Linked DNA regions of Homo sapiens: region 1 is linked to region 2. The links come from fine-mapping of genetic effects on gene expression. A gene starts in region 2. The other region holds a variant in brackets. All regions are shown on one strand. Distances are between the middles of the regions. Region 1 has its middle 16 kb from the start of OSGIN1. Region 2 holds the start of MLYCD (malonyl-CoA decarboxylase).

Evidence for each region.
Region 1: its variant is fine-mapped to the expression of MLYCD in anterior cingulate cortex (GTEx, PIP 0.97).

Annotation. Positions count from the first base shown.
Region 1 is chr16:83,935,841-83,938,748 of GRCh38, reverse strand. No RefSeq gene overlaps it. Among named protein-coding and RNA genes, the nearest start is that of OSGIN1, 16 kb to the left of the region's middle. The variant G/C (reference allele first, on the strand shown) is at 1,514.
Region 2 is chr16:83,897,837-83,900,744 of GRCh38, reverse strand. It overlaps MLYCD (malonyl-CoA decarboxylase), which reads right to left and starts at 1,630. Exons shown (of 5, transcript NM_012213.3): 1 at 1,073-1,630. The coding sequence starts at 1,600. RefSeq lists silencers at 961-1,130, 1,431-1,860.

The sequences.
Region 1 (2,908 bases), 38 kb before region 2:
TGTCAGAGATGAATCAATCAAAATGGAGCATCGTTTTCTTTGAGTAGATGTTATCACTATTCCAAAAAATTAAAAAGAGGTTCTAGTACATGGGGCTGACGTGGTCTATTACATAAGCAGGGCACCAGAGCCTCCTTGATGGATCATCCAGCTACCAGGTGGTCGCCTGGCTCAGTGCTGGCATGCAGGTCTGCCTCACGCAGAGGAACATGTTGACTGCACGTGTCATGTCTCCCTGAGAGCAGGTGTGGGCAGGCTGATCATTTTCTACTGGCTTCCCCCATCCATTTTCCACCTCCTCTGTCCTGCTCTGAGCTCCAGGAGGCTGAGCCCCAGGCTCTGCACCCTTACGCGCTTTGGCCAGCTGGCTTCTGGTTGCTTTTGATCAATGGGTGGCTGTGACAGAGTCCAGAGGGTGAGAGGAGTGGGTGGTCAGGACAGTGCTGTGTTGACAAATGTTTAACAACCAGTCTTGGGGCCGGGCGTGGTGGCTCACGCCTGTAATCCCAGCACTCTGGGAGGCTGAGGTGGGCGGATCACGAGGTCAGGAGTTTGAGACCAGCCTGGTCAACACGGTGAAACCCTGCCTCTGCTAAAAATACAAAAATTAGCCAGGTGTGGTGGCAGGCACCTGTAATCCCAGCTACTCAGGAGGCTGAGGCAGGAGAATCACTTGAATGTGAGAGGTGGAGGTTGCAGTGAGCCGAGATCATGCCATTGCACTCCAGCCTGGGTGACAGAGCGAGACTCCATGTCAAGAAAAAACAACCACCACCAACCACCAGCCTTGGGGGGCACTGTGGAAAGCCCTGTTTTGCAGTCCACCAATATCTGTGGCGTGAACACTCCCACCATGATCAATGTCACGTTACCAGTGTAATACTTCTGAACAGTGGAGTTGGAAAGAGATGTGCAGCTTTGCACTCTGCAGCACTACTGCTCCCTGGAACACACTTTGGGAACCATGGTTAGCAGCTGGCATAAATGCCGACTGTCACCCTTAAACTCCTGGAGACCAGGGACTTAAGGAGTTAGGGATAGTGGCTGGGGCTCAGAGGACTAGGAGGCCATGGGACAGCAGCATCTCCATCTTTTGGTTCTGGCTACCCATCGTAATCACCTGAGACCATCTCCAGAGATGATAATCCTGGATTTTTTAAATTCTCAAATGATTGCATTGTGTAGGCTGGGGAGAACCACTGCCTTAGAGCTAGGATCAGTGGGAGAGGCAAGAGGATGATGATCTTTCTATATTGCAATCTTGGGTCACATTAATAAGGGCATAGTCTACAGAATGTGGGAGGTGATGGTCCTGCTTGATTTGTCATTGATCAATGAAACCACGTTCTGAGCCCCACAGCTTAATGGAAACACCAAGTTGGAAAATGTTCAGAAAAGAGAAACCAGTAAAATGAGGAGACTCAAAACTTGGTCTTGAGGGGCTCAAACTAGGCCTGTGCTCCACAGAACTCCACAGATAGCGGCCATTCTGGGAAGCATGGGAGCCAGTTCA[G/C]GGCATGCCATCTGCCACACCGGCCCTAAGCTCTGTCAGTTGAGGACTCACCTTTGAAGCCACTCTGGTGCTTCTGTCTTCCCACTGAGGAGCAGGAGGGATTTCCTGAGGGTGGAAATGGCAGATGCTGGGTGGGGAGAGCCCAAGATGAGGGGGACCTAGGGGCAGCGCAACAAGGATTCACTTGGGTGACGACGACGATCAGTGATTCTCCAGGGTCATACGGGAAGACCAGCTAATCTCAGGCACGATCCCATGAGCTCATGAATATTTAAGAAGGAGGATGGAAAGGAGAAGGTCAGATGACAGCACCGGCCATGCTGGTAGCTGTGCCCAAGAACGCACACCCTGTGCCGGAGGTCAGGTCTGCCAAAGCTGGGACCGCGCTGTCCTCATTCTCTGTTTCATCCCTGGCCCAGACGGCACTCAGCGCATGCTCAGTACAGTTGCATTCAATGAATGAGTGAGCAGGAAGGCGAGACGGGGTCCTGATGCGGGGGGAAGATGGGCCACCAGGGCTGGCCTTTGTGAAGAGGGGGCTTTTCCACTGAGGCCCGAGGAGTGGGTGGGGAGCCGGCCACGGGAAGAGCACTCCAGGCAGAAAGAAGAGCACAGGCAGAGGCCTGGGGGCTGGCAGGGCCCTGTGGGTCTGAGGTCAGCAGTAGGACCCGAGGGTGTGGAGCTCTGGGGGTGAAGATGGCAATAGCGGAGAGGGGGACAGAGGGTTGACCCCACAGGGCCGAGAGGCAGTGGAGTCAGGAACCAGCCTCAGGGGCTGCTTCCCGGCTGTGTGGCTTGGGCCAGTGACTTAACCACTCTGGGTCTCAGTTTCCTCAGGGCAAAATGGAGAGGAAAACAGCAGCCATCTCCCGTGACTGAGAATGACGGGTGGCGCTGGGAATGGTGCCTGGCACACAGTAACCTCTGCAGCAATGGTCGCTGCCATTGTTATTATTACTGTTATTAGCAGCGGAGGAGCTGGGGAGACAGAGCTGGGTCTGGATGCTGGGTCAGCCTGCCTGGGTTCGGGGTCTTTTCCCCTGATTAGGAAGAGTCTGCAGCTGGCAGAGGTCCAGGGTTTCTGGGTGCTGCCCAGGCCCTTAATTGGGAGCTGTGTCTCTGACACTTCCACGTCCTGGAAGGAGGGCTCAGCGGGCCTGCCCGTCCCTGCAGGCTGGGTGCCCTGGCAGGCATGCTGCCTCCTGCTCTGGGTGGCAAGCAGCAGGCAAGCGGGCGGAGTGATGATGGGGCTGGGAGTCTTGCTGGGCTGCGAGGGCAATGGGGCTGTGTCCCAGGCGCTTAGGGACACGGTGTCCCTCTGTGTGAGCCACTCAGCTCTGGGAGGGCCGGGTGGGCTGGGTCCCACCTGGGTGGGTGGGTGAGGCCCTGCCTGCA
Region 2 (2,908 bases):
AGTGTTCAATTTTTTTTTAACACCAACTGCACATAACAAACTTCTGAATGTCCAAAACTTCCTGAAACATTTACGTCATTTTTCGTTCATTAAAAGGGCAGGTTAAGCCTGGGCCACATGGTGAAACGCCCTCTCTACAAAAAAAAAAAAAAAAAAAAAAAATTAGCCGGGCATGGTGGCCTGCACCTGTAGTCCCAGCTACTCAGGAGGCTGAGGTGGGAAGATTGCTTGAGCCTGGGGAAGTCGAGGCTGCAGTGAGCCGTGATAACACCACTGTACTCCAGTCTGGGCAACAAAAATAAAAATAAAAAAAGGGCAGGTTAGTTTTTCGCCGTATTTAATACTAACAGTATAAAAGAAGAGTATATGTTGCTCTAGGCCTTCTTTCGGGTCATAATCATTTAAATCTCAAAGTATGTGTCTGCATTTAACATGAATGAACTGTGCTAATGCCTGATTACCTCAAGTCAACTCAGAATCATCACATTAAGTACTGAACGCAGGGAGTTAAATGCCCTCCCAAAAGTCATGGAGCACAGACAAGGCCAGAAGCCATGGAGACTCCTGGGTGGTGGTGGTGACCTTGAGTCCTATTTACCTTTGTGCATTTCACAGGACTTCTCAGGACAATGTCTCACACATAGCGGGTGCCCAGTGAACTTCTGAAACACCATCCAGGGTCTCAGAAGGCTGCCTGATGCTCTAGTTCAGGTATACCATATAGATGAAACACTTCTCAGCTACAATAATTTCAAAAGACTGTAGAGCACACACTAATCAGGTACGAGAGGTGACAGCTACCTTAAAGACCACCAAGTGCTGAGTATTTAGTAAACACTATACAAGTGAGGACTTCAAGGACAGACTGGAGGAAGGCGGGGGTGTGCTCTGACGAGGCCAGGACTCAGACAGCGTGGGAAGGGGACACAGTTGGCAGGCGGTAACTGCGGGCGAAGTGAGCGTGCTATCGGGCAGGGAAGGCGGGGTGTGTGGGACTTGGAGGGGGCAAGTGAGGACTACTCGAGGAGGGCGGCCAGTCCGCGCTGCCGGGGGATCGACGGCGGCCCCTTACCCGGACGTCCGGCCCCTCCACCAGCTTGAGGGCCTGCGCCTCCAGCAGGTCGGCCCGCAGCTGCACCAGGAAGCGCACGCCGCCGTCCAGCTTGCTGATGTGGTGGAAGAGGCCGCGATAGCGCGGCACCAGCGCGTAGCGCAGCCGGTCCTCGGCCTGCAGCAGCACCGCCGCCTCCCGCTGCTGCTGGCGCAGATGGAGCACGCCGGCGCTCTGCTCCGCCACCTGGCCGTGGTCCACGCCGAAGCCCCGCGCCAGGCGGCCCAGCAGTTCGGCCCGCTGGGCCGTCTCGGCCAGCCCACCGTAGAAGCTCACGAAGTCCGCGCACTGACCCTCGGCGGGCGCCGGTGTCTTCTCGCGCAGCTCGTAGGCCGGCGTCGGCGGCACCGCGCGGCGCAGCAGCTCGTCCATGGCCCGCTCCAGGGCGCCGGCCGCCTGCCCGCTCGCCAGCCGGGGCCCGGGCGGCCGCGGGGGCAACCGCAGCGGGAGGAGACGCCTGGCCGTCAAGCCTGGCCCGAAGCCTCGCATGGTGCCCCACAACAGCTGCCGAGGGGGAGCGCCGCCGCCGCTGCCGCGCTTCCGGCTTCCGGCGCGCGCCGGCCCCATTGGCCGAGGCCGCGAGCCCGGCTGGGGACGCGGCCAATAGGAGGGCGGGGCGGTGGGGGCGAGGCGGCGGGGGCGGAGCGGCTCTGGCGGCGGCCGGAGGCCAAGTGTGGCTAAAGGTTACTGCCCCGCGGCTGGGCTGCCTCGGGGCCTGCTCCCGCGCGGCTGGCGGCTTGTACTCCGGTCCTAACACCTGACCGCCTAAAGGCACCGGCCCAGCCCCTCCTCTCTTTCCCGACTGCACTGCACAAGTGCCGCCTCCTCTCTAGATCCGAGCGCCTCCAGCCTCCCGGTGCATCAGAGTCACCTGGGAACTCCTGCACCGGAGGATTCCTGGGCTCCGAAATCAGAATCCTAGAGATTCAGATTCAGTGTGTCTGGGAGGAGCCAAGGAATATGCTTGCTTAAGAGGTGTTTGTGGCAATCCTCTGGCATGGTAGGTAGCCTTTGTTTGACCCCTGCCTAGGCACTCACCATTCGCGTCAGTGTCTTACACACATGACGCTCAGAGCCACAGAGGTTGGAGGGGTGTGTGAGTGTGTGTGGAGAGAGAGAGAATATGTCTATATGTATGGATGTATGTACACATACGCACGCATATACACATACATATGTATGTAAAAGAGACATGGAGACAGAGAGACTGATGGAAAGCCATACCCTTGAGCAAATGCCAGAATGAGACAAAGAGTTTTCTTTGAAATAGTTTTCAGATAATTGCAGTTATCAAGGCATATTTATTTTGTCCTCTAGAAAGATAGGCCTGAACTCTAGTTCCCCCTCCTTCCCCAATCCATTACAATCTGTAGAAGAGAATGTCACATACCAGCCATGTCTCCCACATGCAAAATTGCAGGAGGCATTAGGAACACAGTGGGATTTTGTTCCACTCTGATGGAAATATGGCATCTTTGGTTGGAGGGTGAGGGAGCCATGTACTTGGTTGACTATGTCTAGGTGCTAGGATTTCTATAGGTAGAACCCTTTGGTGCAGGTCTTGCAGTATAAAAGACACCTGGAGGTAGTTCTGTATGAGGACAGCCTTTGCTGGGTGTGTCTCATCTTATGGGGCACGAAGAAAGTACGTTTGGCTCATTCTGCCAAGACACAGACACACAAAACATTCTGAAAGCCTAGTGGTGGCTTTTGAGGACACCTCTCCATTCCTCTTTTCTAAGAAGTGGTGAAACCATATTGCCAGCTGGCTAAGGGAGTTGGTGGGGTCCAAACTCT